Linked DNA regions of Homo sapiens. The protein of the gene in region 2 purifies or fractionates together with the protein of the main gene of each other region. This does not show direct contact. Each region holds a gene or a part of one and is shown on either strand. Other genes may lie near its edges.

Evidence for each region.
Region 1: the proteins of IGHMBP2 (region 2) and WDR12 purify together in Homo sapiens (affinity purification with mass spectrometry; one large-scale study listed by BioGRID and IntAct). This does not show direct contact.
Region 3: the proteins of IGHMBP2 (region 2) and WDR89 purify together in Homo sapiens (affinity purification with mass spectrometry; 2 studies listed by BioGRID and IntAct, with this or other methods). This does not show direct contact.
Region 4: the proteins of IGHMBP2 (region 2) and GRSF1 purify together in Homo sapiens (affinity purification with mass spectrometry; 2 studies listed by BioGRID and IntAct, with this or other methods). This does not show direct contact.
Region 5: the proteins of IGHMBP2 (region 2) and TUBA8 purify together in Homo sapiens (affinity purification with mass spectrometry; 2 studies listed by BioGRID and IntAct, with this or other methods). This does not show direct contact.

Annotation. Positions count from the first base shown.
Region 1 is NC_000002.12:202,877,212-202,880,686, reverse strand, and holds part of WDR12 (ribosome biogenesis protein WDR12), read left to right. Parts: 3' UTR 1-3,475.
Region 2 is NC_000011.10:68,931,386-68,934,904, reverse strand, and holds part of IGHMBP2 (DNA-binding protein SMUBP-2), read right to left. Parts: exon of another isoform or gene 1,784-3,519; coding exon of another isoform or gene 1,782-1,783; intron 1,607-1,781; coding exon 1,424-1,606; intron 1,111-1,423; coding exon 992-1,110; intron 442-991; coding exon 347-441; intron 1-346. UniProt on the Homo sapiens protein: 5' to 3' helicase that unwinds RNA and DNA duplexes in an ATP-dependent reaction. Specific to 5'-phosphorylated single-stranded guanine-rich sequences. May play a role in RNA metabolism, ribosome biogenesis or initiation of translation.
Region 3 is NC_000014.9:63,600,355-63,603,873, forward strand, and holds part of WDR89 (WD repeat-containing protein 89), read right to left. Parts: intron 1,954-3,519; exon of another isoform or gene 1,824-1,953; intron 1,581-1,823; exon of another isoform or gene 1,117-1,580; intron 1-1,116.
Region 4 is NC_000004.12:70,829,883-70,833,401, reverse strand, and holds part of GRSF1 (G-rich sequence factor 1), read left to right. Parts: intron 1-128; coding exon 129-284; intron 285-951; coding exon 952-1,095; intron 1,096-1,727; coding exon 1,728-1,863; intron 1,864-3,519. UniProt on the Homo sapiens protein: Regulator of post-transcriptional mitochondrial gene expression, required for assembly of the mitochondrial ribosome and for recruitment of mRNA and lncRNA. Binds RNAs containing the 14 base G-rich element.
Region 5 is NC_000022.11:18,117,301-18,120,819, forward strand, and holds part of TUBA8 (tubulin alpha-8 chain), read left to right. Parts: intron 1-3,519.

The DNA.
Region 1 (3,475 bases), on a different chromosome or scaffold from region 2:
GGTTGTGTTTATAAAATACAAACTGTGGCATACATTCTCTATACAAACTTGAAATTAAACTGAGTTTTACATTTCTCTTTAAAGGTATTGGTTTGAATTCAGATTTGCTTTTTTATTTTTATTTGTTTTTTTTTTTTTTGAGATGGAGTCTTGCTCTGTTGCCTAGGCTGGAGTGCAGTGGCGCAATCTCAACTCACTGCAACCTCCGCTTCCTAGGTTCAATCGATTCTCCTGTCTCAACCTCCCAAGTAGCTGGGATTACAGGCACACATCACGATGTCCTGCTAATTTTTGTATTTTTAGTAGAGACGGGGTTTTGCCATGTTGGCCAGGCTGGTCTTGAACTCCTGACCTCAGGTGATCTGCCCACCTCAGCCTCCCAAAGTGAGCCACTGTGCCTGGCCGAATTAAGATTTGTTTTTGAAATGCTGTAAAAGGTTATATTGGAAATCCAGTAATTGATTGTTGAGATTTTTATTTCTGTTAGAGACTTAGATTTTTTTAAGTTAGCTATTTTAAAAAAGCATTCAAAAAGATTAATGAAAATTGTAATAGAGAAAAAGTTAGAAATTCAGTTCCTTTTGGCAGAATAAATGTTCAAGAAAATTAGGCTGTGAGGGTACTCAGAACATTAAAAAAAATGTAGGCTGGGCATGGTGGCTCACACCTGTAATCCCAGCACATTGGGAGGCCGAGGCAGGTGGATCACCTGAGGTCAGGAGTTTGAGACCACCCTGGCCAACATGTCAAAACCCTGTCTCTGCTAAAACTACAAAAATTAGCTGGGCATGGTGGCGACCGCCTGTAATCCCAACTACTTGGGAGGCTAAGGCAGGAGAATTGCTTGAACCCGGGAGGCAGGGGTTGTAGTGAGCTGAGATTGTGCCACTGCACTCCAGCCTGGGTGACAGTGCAAGACTCTGTCTCAACAACAACGATAACAAAATATTGATTCGGCAGGGCACGGTGGCTCATGCTTGTAATCCCAGCATTTTGGGTGGCCAAGGCAGGCGGCTCACCTGAGGTCAGGGGTTCGAGACCAGCCTGACCAACATGGTGAAACTTTGTCTCTACTAAAAAAAAAAAAATCCAAAACAAATTAGCCGGGTGTGGTGGCACACTCCTGTGGTCCCAAGTACTTGGGAGGCTGAGGCAGGAGAATTGGTTGAACCCAGGAGGTGGAGGTTGCAGTGAGCTGAGATCATACCACTGTGCTCCAGCCTGGGCAGCAGAGCCAGACTCTATCTCAAAATAAAGACAAGTAGATTGCCAATTTTTGAAGAATTCATCAAGATATTTTAAGGAAGGCACTTTATATTAAATATATGTCAGATCCTTTAGAAATTGCATACAGTTGGTTGGGCACGGTGGCTCACGCCTGTAATCCCAGCACTTTGGGAGGCTGAGGCGGGCGGATTGCCTGAGCTCAGGAGTTCGAAACCAGCCTGGGCAACACAGTGAAACCTCGTCTCTAATAAAATACAAAAAATTAGCTGGGCGTGGCAGCATGTGCCTGTAGTCCCAGCTACTCCGGAGGCTGAGGCAGGCAAATTGCTTGAACCCGAGAGGCAGAGGTTGCAGTGAGCTGAGATTGTGCCACTGCATTTCAGCCTGGGCAACAGAGCAAGACTCTGTCTCAAAAAAAAATAAAAAATTGCATTGCATACAGTTTTCACTGTAACCCTAATCTTTCCTCATGTGTAGATTAGAATAAATTTTTTAGACAAAACCTTTCATCAGTATTAAACATTCTACAGATTTTATGATATCATTAGCATTTATCTTTATGCATGTGTTATATAAAAATATTTAAAGTAAATGTATTTTTTAAATGTTATTTCCATTATTAATGGATTGATACTCCTTAAGTAGAGCATTCACAACCTTTTAGTAATATTTGGGAAATATGTTTGGTCTCATTATTAGATGGTATTACATCTCAAATGATGTTCCTGTTGCAGAAGTCTGCGAAACAATATCTAAACTTGGCTGCAGTTGAGAGCTAAACAGTGTATTGAACCAGTTAGGAGTTTAGTTCTCTGTAGAAAACCAGAGGCAGTCCAGGGCTGATGTAGGTTTTGTTCCACATTCTTTAGGATCCTAGGCTCCCTCCATCCCTGGTATGTGGTCCTCATTTTCATATAGACCAAGAGCTAGAGCTCCAGTTACCATTTCTTAAAGTATATTTTAATGCCAAATAGTGAATAAAGGTGGCCAGAAAATTCATGCACAGAATCCTTCTTTTTCTCATTTTGTGCTGATTGGTATAAATTTTATTGTATTTGTAGTCTCTGGAAATCTTCTAACTTTGAGAGGACAAAGATGAATTCCTAGTCCTGTTTTGGATGGTCTTCAAATGATCCTTAAGGGCAGTTATTTAAAATGTCTTTCTTAACTCACCCAACCTAGGCTGACCGAATGTAGTCTGTATAAACTAGATGGTTAAAGATAAAGAAGCCTATATATCAGATGCATAGACAAAGAATAAAATGGCATCCAGAACTGGTCCCCACCTATTCCCAATCCTGGTTCCACAGCAGAATACATTCATAGTTCAGGCATTCTTCCTTGAGATAGATATAATGTAAGTGACCAAGTCTCTTGGACAAGTATTGTCTCTGATCAATCCCTGCCAAACTCCTTTCCTTGGTTAACTCAAGTGGTTAGATCTTACTCCCTGAACAGAAGGAATATGAGAGGTCAATACATGCCTAGACTATTCAGTCCTCTGATATTGCTCCACACCCTTTCCCTCAAAAGCCATGAGACCTTTCAATGGTCCCAGTTCCTCTACCAGAACACCAGAGATGCCTGCTTTACATGGACTTATATATTCCCAAGAATCACTTGGATAAATGAGTGGTGCTGCTTTCCCGTGGTTGGGGAAAAGCTAGGAACCTGACAATGCAGTGCTCAGAACCTGCTGACCGGTACTAGTTATGCTGTCTTGCCATAGTAGTGCAGTTCTTTAAAATGTTGATACTTGCTCTCTTATCAAAGGTTGGTTTTTTTGTTTTTTTGTCAAGACAGGGTCTCACTATGTCACCCATACTGGAGTACAATGGTGTAATCTTGGCTTACTGCAACCTCCACCTTCTGGGCTCAAGCTGGCCTCTCACCTCAGCCTTCCAAGTAGCTGGGACCACACCCAGTCAATTTTTTATTTTTTATTTTTTAATTTATTTTTATTATTACTTTTTTTGTAGAGAGAGGGTTTCGCCATGTAGCCCATGCTGGTCTTGAACTCCTGGGCTCAAGCTGTCTGCCCACCTGGACCTCCCAAAGTGCTGAGATTACAGGCATGAGCCACCGCACCCAGCCCAAATAAAGTTTTAAGAAATTACTTGGCCAGGCATAGTGGGGCCTTTGTAGAAAAACATAGCTTTTCTATGAGAAGATGATCAATATTTTCTTTTCCTTTGAATTTGGAATTACCATTTTGGAACTGTTGTCAACAATGCATAATAATATATCA
Region 2 (3,519 bases):
ACTCCTGTGGGAAATGCCAGAAAAGGACAGGCTGTTCCGCCAGGGCTGCCCGTGGAAGGACTGTGTCAGCCTGAGGCTGCCGGGGTCACCCAGCAAATCTGGCCAGAACACAAGCCAGTGCAGAAGGCTGGGGCACCGGGCAGGGCGGGGCAAGGTGGGGCGGGCAGACGAACACGCAGAGGGGCCCCTGACGACATCATTTGGGCCCTGGATCCAGTCACAATAAGGTCAGCCCTACCCCTGAACTTTTCGGTCACCACAGCCAACAAATCACCCTTTTTCTTTCACCCTCTAGGTTGTGTGAGCCCCAGCTGCTCTGTAGAGGGACAAAAGGAAACCCTCGTACCTGGAGGTTGTATGGCGAGACCACAGCAATGTCACGGGCTGGAACACCAGCGTCCACCAGAGCCTGGATGTGCAAACTGACGAGGCGGACTTCGCCTGGAGGGAAAGAAAGAACGGGTGAGCAGCACAAGGTCGCCCCAAGTGGGCATCCACCACCAACACGTGTTTCGGGCACGTTTCTGTCTATCATGGCCAGCTGATCCTCCACTCAGGTGGCTTCCTGGGAGCTAATCATCTGTGTCCCAGGGCCCCAGGACCAGCCATGCCCAGCTAACTTGAATTTCACATCAGCAATGAAGGCCTTTTGACTCCTATGGCCGTGCATCCTGTTCAACGTGGAACTGGGGAGATGGTGGTGTCAGCTGAGCAATGACAGTTCCCATCACCAGACCAGCCAGGCAGAGCTGGGCCACCATTCAGGAGAAGGCCGTAAAATGCTGCCAGGCCCATCTCACCCAGGAGCGGTCTGCTCACCCTGGAGAAAACGATGCTGCTCAGCCTCTTGCAGTGTGGGGCTCCGTTTTTTCACGGCCATCAACAACTGCTCTCAGCTCCTCCCGGAATTAGGCAATTAAAGTGCCTTTTATTTTTAAAGAGCTGGAGGTATGTTTAAACAAAAAAGCTGGCCATCTGCAAGCAAGCTCACCAGGGTTCCCTTTCGACTGTTCGTCCTCCTCCTCCAGCTCAAACAGCCCGCAGCCGGCGGTGTCCACCAAGAGCAGGGGCACACCCGTCTCTTCTGTGGCAGCCACACCTGGGAGGTCCCTGGCACACAGGCAGAGAGGGAGCACATCAGGGGGCCACAGTGCAGCACTGAGGCCCCACCCAACAGAACCGACCCCTCCCACGAGGAAAAGGCTTAGGTAGGGGAGGACAATGAGCACATCAGGACATCAGAAGGGAGGGAGCGGGCCTGACCCAGCTCTCCAGGGCAAGGCCACCCTCTCTTCCAAAAAGCTAGCCTCAGAGTCGACTTTCATGCAGAAAGCTTCACTTTAGCTTGCTGCGTAGAAACAGGTGACGCAGAGGATTAGCCAGGGCAGAAGGATGGGGCGGCGGGTGGTGCCGAGCTACTCACCTCAGGAGGTGCCTTGCCACGGAAGAGTGGGCTGTGAGCTGCCCAAGGTACATGGTGTCTGAGGCCCAGCGCATGATAGCCTGGTGCATGCGGTACTGCACCGTCAGTGTCCGCACCACCCTCGCGCCGTACTCCTCAGCCAGGCGTTCCATCAGGCTGAGTGACAGTCCTGCCAGCGCAGCCCTGCGCCCAGGAGGGAGAAAGGGGGAAGGCAGGCCTGAGCCCCAGAGTCCAGGTGTGAACCACAGCAAGTGAGGAGGACAGGCCCCAAACCTCAGGACCCAACTCTCCCCTGGATTCTGACCCAGAAGTAACCAAGGGGCGGGTTTGGCTGAATCACAGCCCCAAAGGCACCTACATCCAATCGCCAAGGCCCGTGAATGTTCCCTTACAGGACAACAGGGACGCTGCAGCTGAGATGAAGTTAAGGATCCTGGGATGGGGAGGCGACCCTGGATGACCCAGGTGATAACCCAAGGGTCTTATAAGGGGGCATGCGAGGGTCAGTCAGAGAAGGTCACCGAGGGGAGAGATTTGAAGACGTAACACGGCTGGCTTCATAGACAGAGGAAAGGGCAACAAGTCAAGCAGTGGCCTCTAGGAGCCGGAAAAGACCAGGAGATGGGTTTTCCCCTGGATCCTCCAGAAGAAGCAACCCCACCCACACCTTGATTTTAAGCCGGTGAGTCTGATTTTGGACATCTGACCCCCAGATTGTCGTTTCTGGAGGTCAGAAAATCTGTTGTTGTCAGCCACTAAGCTTGTGGTCATTTGTCACAGCCATAACAGGGAACGAACACACTCCAACATGCTCCAACTGTGAGCAGTCAAGTCCACTCCCACCAAGAACGGCTGCAGCGGCTGAGCACTGCCCAGGCGCCAGGCACTGCTGGGTGTGCCAGATGTGGATTAACTCCCTTCATCCTTATAACAACCTCATGAGGTGGCTACTGTTATGACTCCCATATTACATGTAAGAAGGGTGAGACAGAGGAGGCTGCCAGCCCACAGCTGCCCGGGTGAGCTGCAGAGCCAGGACCTGCCCGGGCCACCTGGTGCCAGAGCCCACCCTCTGCACCACTACGGCTCACCAACCCCACCAAAACCCTGGGGCAGTACCCAGCTCCACTTCAGAGACCTTCCCTCTGGAAACTTACCAGACCTCTGTGATTAACGTATTTTTAATTCCAACAAAATGAGGACAGGACGCGATGATCAGTACCAACTGCAAACCCAAAACACTCAGCGCAACGTCACCCAACGTCCTCCCCCAAAAACCATCCTACTCTCTGCAGGGAACGCCACCCAACGTCTTCCCCCGAAACCATTCTACTCTCTCCAGGGAATGCCACCCAACGTCTTCCCCCGAAACCATCCTACTCTCTCCAGGGAACGCCACCCAATGTTTTCCCCGAAACCATCCTACTGTCTCCAGGGAATGCCACCCAATGTTTTCCCCGAAACCATCCTACTCTCTCCAGGGAACACCACCCAACGTCTTCCCCCAAAACCATCCTACTCTCTCCAGGGAACGCCACCCAACGTCTTCCCCCAAAACCATCCTACTCTCTGCAGGGAACGCCACCCAACGTCTTCCCCCGAAACCATCCTACTCCCTCCTACACAACAGGGTCCCTGCTCAAGGGCACAGTTCCAAACTTCCTCCACCCAAAGGCTTTCCAGAGGATGAAGACCTCCTTTAAGGACATCTCGAGAACCTCTCCCTGGAAGAAGCCACTGAATAAGCGTCCTCCCACGCCTGTCCTCCCTGCTCCCAGGGAGGTTCTGATGGCAGTGGCTGCTGCCATCATGCCGGCTGCAGCAGGGAACCCTGGCTGTGGCTGCACACTCCATGAAGCCAGTGGGAGCCCCGCCCCTTCTGAGGTAGAGTGGCCGCTGCAGCCCAGACACAGGGTCACAGCTACAGACCCAGGCCTCCTGCTCCAGAAGGGCGGGGCTACAGCCGCCCAAACTGCAGCTGTGGATCTGCGTCTCCCGGTGCTCTTAGGGGAGCCGGGAACAGGTAGGATCTGCCTTTCCGCGTGCAGCTGCAGCCGCCAGATCTGTGGCTGCAGACCTGGGCTTCCTGCTCCACG
Region 3 (3,519 bases), on a different chromosome or scaffold from region 2:
GCATGGTGGCCTATGCCTGTAGTCCTAGCTACTCAGGAGGCTGAGGTAGGAGGACTGCTTGAGACCAGAAGTTGAGACTACAGTGATCCATGATCATGTCACTGTCATACAGCCTGGGGAATAAAGTGAGATCCTGCCTCAAAAAAGAAAAAAAAAATGCTGAATTTACTATATATATTTTATGCTAGTAAGAGAATAAAAAACATGTACATACGCCACCCAGTAGTTCCTTTTAGCTCAAACCCAATTACTGGTTCTACTCAAGTCATCTTCAGGATTGGCAAGGATCTCCACTTTGGAATAATCTTCTCCTGGCCCCAGCTGCCTTACACAACTTTAGAATTTAAACATAGATATGTAGGCAAAAAAAAAAAAAAAAAAAAAAAAAAAAAAAAAAAAAGGTTTCCCAAAAATATTCATGCCTTAATCCCTGGAATCTGTGAATATGTTAGGTTACAAAGGAAAACTGAAGTTGTACATGGAATTAAGGTTGCTTATCAGCCTAATATAAGGCTAACCTTAAAATAGGGAGATTATCCTAGATTATCTGTTATCACCGTGGCCCAATATGGTAACAACTGTCTTCAAAAGTGGAAGAGGGAGGCAGAAGAGTCAGAGGAAGAGGTTCCCATAGAAGAAAGGCAAAGACACAGAGAGATACAATGTTGCTGGTTTTGAAGACAGAGGCTGAGAGTGGCCTCTAGAAACTAAAAAGCAAGAAAAGATTGTCCTCTAAGCCTCCAAATGGAAATGCAGCCCTGTTGACATCTTAATTTTAGCCCAGTGACATCCATTTTGGACTTCAGACCTCCAGAACCGTTAAGATAATAAACTTAATGTTATTTCAAACAACTAAGTTTGCAGTAATTTGTTATAGCAGCAATAGGAAACGAATACAACAGAGGTTCCCAGTATAGAATCCTGGAGAAGTCCTTCTAAGGCAGTAGCAGCTTGTGATAGTAGAACTGGGATTTGAACCTAGGCATTCTGGCTTCAGGCTTCACGGACTGTGCTCTAAACCACCATACTAGATTGCCTCTCCAGGGTGGGCTGTATGTAGGACAAGTTCAAGGCCAGAAAAACATGCATGCCTAGTAACACTATAATAAATTCTTGACACTAGAGCAGAGTACGAGTCTGAGGTGGAGGGAGTCATGGCAGGACAAGCGTTTAAGTTTCTTCCACTCTTTGACCGAGTATTGGTTGAAAGGAGTGCTGTTGAAACTGTAACCAAAGGAGGCATTATGCTTCCAGAAAAATCTCAAGGAAAAGTATTGCAAGCAACAGTAGTCGCTGTTGGATCGGGTTCTAAAGGAAAGGGTGGAGAGATTCAACCAGTTCGTGTGAAAGTTGGAGATAAAGTTCTTCTCCCATAACATGGAGGCACCAAAGTAGTTCTAGATGACAAGGATTATTTCCTATTTAGAGATGGTGACGTTCTTGGAAAGTACGTAAACTGAAATAAGTCACTATTGAAATGGCATCAACATGAAGCTGCCCATTCCACCGAAGTTCTGAAATCTTTCATCATGTAAATAATTTCCATATTTCTCTTTTATAATAAACTAAATAACTAATGAAAAAAATAAAATAAATTCTTCTATTGTGCTTTCTCATCAGTGAATATTCTTTCTAGCCTGTCTAACAAATTCATTTTCATTCTTAAGATGAAATGTTTTTTCTGTTGCTTTAGTGATATCTTCTTAAGCATCTGTCTTTTCATCTTTAAAAGGGGAAATGAGTACTAACTCAAGAACTGTTAGGAGGATTAACTAATGCATGCCATGTGTTCTGCACAATGTATGGCATATCATAGTACCTACACAATAGATGTAATAGGTCAGGCATGGTGGCTCATGCCTGTAATCCCAACACTTCTGGAGGCCGAGGCAGCGATCACTGAGGTCAGGAGTTCGAGACCAGTCTGGTCAACATGGTAAAACCCCGTCTCTACTAAAAATACAAAAATTAGTTTGGTGTTGTGGTGCACACCTGTAATCCAGCTACTCGGGAGGCTGAGGCAGGAGAACTGCTTGAGGTAGAGGTTGCAATGAGCCAAGGTCTTGCCACTGCACTCCAGCCTGAACAACAGAGTGAGATTCCTACTCAAAAAAAAAAAAAAAAAAAAAAAAAGATGGCTGGACATGGTAGCTCACGCCTGTAATCCCAGCACTTTGGGAGGCCAAGGCGGGCAGATCACCTGAGGTCGGGAGATTGAGACCAGTCTGACCGACATGGAAAAACCCCGTCTCTATTAAAAATACAAAATTAGCCAGGCGTGGTGGCACATGCCTGTAATCCCAGCTACTCGGGAGGCTGAGGCAGGAGAATCGCTTGAACCCAGGAGGAGGAGGTTGCGGTGAGCCGAGATCGCGCCGTTGCACTCCATCCTGGGCAACAAGAGTGAAACTCCATCTCAAAAAAAAAAAAAAAGATGTAATATAAAAATTACCAGTATCACCATATAAGGGAGAATTTGGATCTATCAGAGAGCTCCAAATAGCACAATTACATCAAACAGCAAAAAATATTAGTAAGTTGGATTTGGGTTTTTTAAAATTTATTTTATTTTTTTGTATTTTTAGTGGAGATGGGGTTTCACCGTGTTAGCCAGGATGGTCTCGACCTCCTGACCTCGTGATCCGCCTGCCTCGGCCTCCCAAAGTGCTGGGATTACAGGCGTGAGCCACCACGCCCAGCCTGGATTTGGGTTTAAAATAGAAATAAGCATTCCCTCCAACTTTTAATTTTCAACATTTATTTTTACTTATTTTTCCTTTGGAGATGGCATCACAGCTCATTAATTTTCAACATTTATAAGTGCGCACACACAAAAAGTTCTAATGCACACACACAGTTCACCTTCTAGGTTCACTGTTAACTTCTTGCCACATTTGCTTTCTCTCTCTACACACACACACACACACACACCCCACTGCTTTTTAAAAATGAACCTTTTGATGAGAGTTAGCTGCAGACAAAGTATCACTCCATTCCTAAATACTTCACTATAACAGCATCTCTCCAACCTTCTGTTTTTCATGTCATGGAATTTTTTGAATATCCTATTCTTCAACAACTTTCATCCAAAGAGTTCAGGATCTATTAATTGTCCTTGCCTAAATCAATGATTATGCTAGAATCTGTAAAACAGTCCTTTTCTATCATTCTTTCTACCTTAGCAGGCATTCTTCTATAAACAAGAGCTTTTTTCCTTTCTCTGCTTCTTTGACTAGGAAATCACAATTCTTAAAAACTGTGTATCATAATCTATCGCTTTGTTGCTTTTTGATGCTCAAAGTGTCTGGACTTGGCCATTAAGACCCTTTAAGCCAGCTTCTGAAGCCTTCTGATAGGACCCCATCAGTCTGTAAGCCCCACATGAGAAACTCCGTGGAAGCATTAGGTAGCTCTAAAAATGGTGTTCTTCCTTCAACTTAAGTATTCAGACATGAAATGACCATTTTCCAGTAACGCTGGGGTAGTCACCTCCACAGCTGCTGAGGTAGCTAGCACAGT
Region 4 (3,519 bases), on a different chromosome or scaffold from region 2:
GGGATTTGTGTAAGGAATATGACACTTGTTTCCTGCTTTGTTGTTGGAAAACTGCATTCTTGTGACTTACATAATTGAGCTAAAAGTTTGATTTCTGTTTTCAATTGATTTTGCTCATACACTTTTAGACTGCAGAATCCGCAACGGTGAGAATGGAATACATTTTCTCCTAAACAGAGATGGGAAACGAAGGGGTGATGCCTTAATTGAAATGGAGTCAGAGCAGGATGTGCAGAAAGCCTTAGAGAAGCACCGCATGTACATGGGCCAGCGGTATGTGGAAGGTATGTGAAGTCAGATTATGGCTTTTTGGGATCATTGCATTAGGTTTTATACTTTTCAAGGTAGTTTTTATTTGATCCTTAATAATGAAGTATTTAGATTGTATGAATGCATTCTTTTATAGGATGTGAAAATAAAACATAAAGAGATAAAGTTTCTTTTTTTTGTGGGGGGGATGGAATCTCACTCTGTCACCCAGGCTGGAGTGCAGTGGTGCGATTTCAGCTCACTGCAACCTCTGCCTCCTGGGTTCAAGCAATTCTCCTGTCTCAGCCTCCCAAGTAGCTGGGACTACAGGCACATGCCATGATACCCAGCTAATTTTTGTATTTTTATTAGAGATGGGGTTTTACCATATTGGTCAGGCTGGTCTCAAACTCCTGACCTCAGGTAATCCACCCGCCTTGGCCTCCCAAAGTTCTGGGATTATAGGCGTGAGCCAGTGTGCCTGGCCAATGAAGTATCTTACAAGCTGTGAGAAATAAAGAAGTTATGCCCGCATGGTAAATATGCAATAAATGTCATTTGTTATTTTCTCTAGAGAAGCGCATAAAGATTAAAATAGTTATTGAATTCTCAGATAACCCAGCAAGTTGTAATGATTTTTTTTAATGGGTTTGTTCCTTTGTTATGTAAATTTTTCATCCCTGTTGGGTTTTTTCTTCGTAGTATATGAGATAAACAATGAAGATGTGGATGCCTTAATGAAGAGCTTGCAGGTCAAATCTTCGCCTGTGGTAAATGATGGTGTGGTTCGTTTGAGAGGACTTCCTTATAGTTGCAATGAGAAAGACATTGTAGACTTCTTTGCAGGTACTTTGCAGTTGTATTATGCTTGGGAGCTCATATCTTTTTTCCCTTGGTATCTCCTTCTATATCTTAGATGAGCCTGTTTCTGGGCAAAGGCATGCAGTTATATTAGGTTCTTTAGGGGAGAGCTCTTCACTTAAATTTCTAATATTTATAGATTTTATATGTGTTTTTGTTCTATCAGGCAGATTTTAGGAGGGAAGTCAGATTTCAGAATAATTTCATGAGGGTTTTACTATTGAAGGAAATAACTTCTCATAATAGTTGCTGTATTTGTGTAAGACAATAACAATTTATATAATTTAAAAGTATTTTCTAATTCCTAGAACCATTAGCAGTGAAGTCTGTGATTTCTATTGTTTCCTAGTATATAATTAACAGCAAAAAAAAAAAAAAAAACTGGTGGGGAGAATTGTATGTTTTGGGTGGGCTTCTTGGACCTTACCTATTCTGGAAATACAAGTATGTAGGTGTTGACTGACTTTTGACTGCATAATAATTTTCTTCCTGTCAAGCATGTATTCAGTTTTGGGACTGGCAAAACAGAATAAAAATTTTATTAGTATGTGAATGATGGTGTTAATTCTAAGGATAAAAAAGCCTGCTAGTAGCATTAAAATCTCTTGGTGTCCTAGGACTGAATATAGTTGACATTACTTTTGTGATGGACTATAGAGGGAGGCGAAAAACAGGGGAAGCCTATGTGCAATTTGAAGAACCAGAAATGGCCAACCAAGCCCTGTTGAAACACAGGGAAGAAATTGGTAATCGGTGAGTAAAGCAGATACTAATGATGCAGAAGTGTTACACATTAAGTCATTTTGATGAATGTGCTGTAATATGACTGAAAAGTTATCCAAACATAGAAAAGTAGAGAGAGTAGTGTAGTGAGCCATCAAATGCCCATAATTTAGATTAACAATTTTTTTTCGACTGCTCCTTTTTTTTTTTTTTGAGACAGAGTTTCACTCTTTTTGCCTAGGCTAGAGTGCAATGGCACGATCTTGGCTCACTGCAACCTCTGCCTCCCTGGTTTAAGCGATTCTCCTGCCTCAGCCTCCCAAGTAGCTGGGATTACAGGCGCCTGCCACCATGCCCGGCTTTTTTTGTATTTTTAGTAGAGACGGGGTTTCACCATGTTGGCCAGGGTGGTCTCGATCTCTCGACCTTGTGATCCGCCCGCCTCGGCCTCCCAAAGTGCTGGGATTACAGGCGTGAGCCACCGCATCCGGCTTGACTGCTCCTTGTGGGGCAGGGACTAACCCATAGACAGAGTACCTAGAGCAGCTAGATTAACACATTTATATATAAAATGTAACATCTGTTATATTTGCTTCATCTGGGTTTTTTTTAGTATGCATCTTTTAAAAAAATTTTTTTACATAATTTCAATGTTATATCTAACACTGTTAGCAATAGTATATTATCTAATAACAGTTCATAATAGCATTTTCCCAATTATACCAAAAATAGCCTTTTTTTTTTTGGCAACGGAGTTTCACTCTGCCGCCTAGGCTGGAGTGCGGTGGTGTGATCTTGGCTCACTGCATCCTCTCTCTGCCTCCCAGTTTCATGTGATCCTCCTGCCTCAGCCTCCTGAGTAGCTGGAACTAGAGGCATGCGCCACCATGCCCAGCTAAGTTTTGTATTTTTAGTAGAGACAAGGTTTTACCATGTTGGCCAGGCTGGTCTAGAACTCCCGGACTCAAGTCATTCACCCACCTCGGCCTCCAAAAGTGCTGGGATTACAGGTGTGAGCCAGCACACCGGACAAAAATACAGAATCCAGATAAGGTCTACACACTGCATTTGATTGTTATGTCCATAATTCTCTGTGTGTGTGTGTGTTTTTTTTTTTTTTTTAAGACACAGGGTCTTATTCTGTCACCCAGGCTGGAGTGCAGTGGCATGATGATAGCTCACTACAGCCTTGAATTCCTGGGCTCAAGCAATCGTCTCGCCTCATCCTCCCAACTAGCTAGAACAATAGGCATGTGCCGCCACACCTGGCTGTGTGTATGTGTGTGTGCGTGCGTGCGTGTGTGTTTGTAGGTGGGGTCTTGCTGTGTTGCCCTGGCTGGCCTCAAACTCATGGGCTCAAGTGATCGCCCGCTTTGGCTTCCCAAAACGCTAGGATTACAGGTGTGAGCCACTGCACCTGACCACTGATTCTCTTGAACTAGAGCAAATCCCCCTTACTTATTCTTCCCCCCTTTTTAAAAGCAATTGACTTTTGAAGAAATTAGATCAGTTGTCTTGTACAGTATCTCATGTTGACATCACCTCAGGATGCACATGATGATAAGTGGGTTCATTTGTGTTTTAACTTTAACTTTGGAGGTACAGTTTAAAATGTCAAATGTTAAATCACTGTTTCGTTAATTTTTTTTTTTACTGTTTTCTGGCCTTTTAAATCAGCTCCTTTGA
Region 5 (3,519 bases), on a different chromosome or scaffold from region 2:
TTAACCACATTTTTATGAATACGCTGAACAAAGCAAATCAGTTTATTTGTCCCCCAAATATTTTGATTTGTTCAAACAAGAATTCAGTCAGAGTCCCCATGATGCGTGTGGTGGTGCTTGGTGGTGCCTTAGTTCCTTTGACATGGGACAGCCCCTCCCAGCTCTTCATTTCTCATGAGTTGAAAAGGCTGGGCCAGGCCCGATGGCTCACGCCTGTAATCCCAGCACTTTGGGAGGCTGAGGCAGGTGGATCACGAGGTCAGGAGATCGAGACCATCCTGGCTAACATGGTGAAACCCTGTCTGTACTAAAAGAATACAAAAAATTAGCCGGGTGTGGTGGCGAGCGCCCGTAGTCCCAGCTACCTGGGAGGCTGAGGCAGGAGAATGGTGTGAACCCGGCAGGCGGAGCTTGCAGTGAGCCGAGATCGCACCACTGCACTCCAGTCTGGGCGTCAGAGTGAGACTCCGTCTCAAAAAAAAAAAAAAAAAAAGAAAGTAAATAAAAAAAATTAAGAAAAAAAAAGGCTGGACCAGCTGCCCTGTAGGATGTCTCACCTTCTGGATTGATTTTGTTTTCTCTGATATCACTGAACTTAATTAACCCTCTGATCCCTGTGTTTCCTGTGAAGTGGAAACTGAATCTACAGGGCTCAGTGATGAGGGCTGAGTATTTTTGAGAAGAAGTCCTCACTGGTGGTGTGTGTGTCACATTGCGTCCCATCAGGAGGTCCTCGATGTCGGGTTGGCCCACAGTTAGCGATGCTGAGATTGATCGCGGCCTTAGGCTGGCGACCCTGGTAGTTACGTCCCCCCTTGTGACTATAACAGTGGTTCTTTGGCTCTCGGCGAAGATCCAGTTCCCCATCAGTCTTTCACCTAATGGTGTTGGCGTTCTTGTCCAAATCAATCACGTAATTAGAAGATGGAATAGGGCAATATTTGATAATCTATTATTCGGTCCACATTGCTTAGCAGACATTCTTCAATTAAAGAAAAAAGAGCCTTCTCTAACTAACGGGGCTGTCTGGATAGGGACAAATGAGTTTTTCTCTGGGGGTTTTCTTTGAGGACTTGTGGGTTTTCATCTTGCATCCTGCTTCACTCAAATGCTGCCATCAGTACTTGTGAGGCTCAGGTTGTCTCATCTTAGGCAGCAGGAGCCTCTTCAGGTGCTTGGGCAGCCCCTTGGTTAGCCTCCGTGCCTCCAGGCGCTATGCGACATTCCAGGCTCATCTAGCACACTCCCCACCCTGGACCTGGACGCCTCCGTCTCTCCAAGGAGCCCAGTTCCTGTTAGCAGGGATCTTCCTTCTCTCTTGATTGGTGTAGCTACTTTTCACTTTTGAGAGCACCTATGAATCTGTCAGTCATTTCTGAGTCTATTTTATGCCTCCAATTATTCTTATGAGCTAGTTCAATAGGAAAAATAGCTCTTTCTAAGGGGTGTGTGTGTTTGCACGACGGGGGCGGGGGAGAGAGAAAGAGACAGACATTTTGTAAAAGACTGGCATATGTATTAGTGTGAGATTAATGAGGGCATTAAAAGAGGCTAAAGACGTTGTCACCATGCTAGTGGTTTTCAGGTCCCCCAAATCCTTGACTCTTCCTCCCATGATCTTCGATTTTCCCAAAATATCCCTGCGTCCTCCCTGGAAAGCCCCAGAATGTTCCAGAAGTGAGAGCAGGCTGGGGGCCGGGCAGCACTGTAGGCAGGACTAGAGGGTGGTCGGGATGCGGTGGTGGTGAGGGGGCGACAGACCCAGAAGGCTGAGGGTTAGGACCACAGAGGACACTGTCACTTAGAAGGAAAATACATAGGATCAGGCCCCCCTCGGGCCTCTCCAGTGTCCCCTCAGCTTCCACACCTCCCTGGGAAGTCACAGCCACATGCTGAATGTGACGCCGTGGTCTGGGTGGATAACTCGCTGGTTGTGGGTGGTTTCTGGATGCAGATGCTGCTTTCCTTAGGCCTGAATTGAGCCCTCAGATGGAGGCAGAGAATAGACCCCACAATAAAGGAGAGAGGAGCAGGGACCTGAGAGCTCCCTCTACGTGTGCTACTTCCCGGTGCAGAAAAATGCTACCAGGTAGTACCGTAATGAAAATGATAATGGCAAGACAGCATCAACAACTGTGGCTAACTTACACTTTTCAGATGAGGAGAGGCTCAGTAACTCAGCCCAGGCCACACAGCACAGCAAGTAAATTGAGAAGGCAACATGGGAACCTGGGGCCGTGGGCAGCTCTGTGGGTGAATCCCCTCCCTAGCCACCAGGCTCACGGAGATCCAGCGGGTTGCGACCCCCGTCGGGCTGCCCCACGCTCACCCCTGTGCTCATCCTCCCTCAAGGCAAGGACCAGGTGTCGCTCAGCTGTAGCACAGAGACAGGACTAGAGTGGGGGCACAGTTGTAAAATTGAACTAGGGGGCAATGGTCCTGATGCTCTGACCCCGCAAGATGCTACTCAGGGCAGCTGCCCTGCTCTCCATGCCCAGAATTTCTTCCACGTCTCCAGGAGCCCCACACTTTGACGTGGACTCTACTGGCTTCTGTGCCCAGCCGTGCCCTCTGGAGGCTCTGCCCCTGGCTTGGGTTACCCGGAGCTGGAAAATGCCAGGGCAGGTCATGGGTAAAAATAGAAACCCACAGACCTGGCACATGCTTCCTGCTGGGCTCAGGCGGCTGCCCCAGGCACAGTGTCGCCTTGTGTGGGCCACTGCTTCCCCAGGGCAGGGTGTGGGTGGGAGGATGAGTCTATCACGCCTACGTGTGCACGTGCACACACACACACACACACTGTCTCTCTCCCCACCCCCCTTTTTCTTTAATAATTTCAACTTTTATTTTAGATTCAGGGAGTACATATGCAGATTTCTTACATGGGTATATATTGTGATGCCAAGGTTTGGGGTACGATTAATCCTGTCACCCAGGTAATGAGCATAGTACCCAATAGTTAGTTTTCCAATCTTTGCCCGCTTCTTCCCTCCCCGCTCCAGTAGTGCCCAGTGTCTACTCTTGCCATTTTTCTGTCCATGAGTACCCATGTTTAGCTCCCACTTATAAGAACATGTGGTATTTGGTTTTCTATTCCTGCATTAATTTGCTTAGGATAATGACCTCCAGCTGCATCCATGTTGCTGCAAAGGATATGGGTTCATTCTTTTTTGGGGGCTGCGTAGTATTCCATGGTGTATATGAATGACATTTTCTGTATCCAGTCTACCATTGCTGGGCACCTGGTTGATTCCGTGTCTTTGCTGTTGTGAATAGTGCTGTGATGAACGTGTGAGTGCAGGTGTCTTTTTGGTAGGATGATTTTCTTTTGGATATATACCCAGTAACAGGATTGCTGAGTGAAATGGTAGTTCTGAGTTCTTTGAGAAATCTCCAAACTGCTTTCCACAGTGGCTGAACCAATTTACATTCCCATCAGTGCACTCCCCATCTTAAGCTGTTAGTACGAATACCAATCAGGCAATTGTGGCTTCACATCAGCTTTACTTAACACTTGGC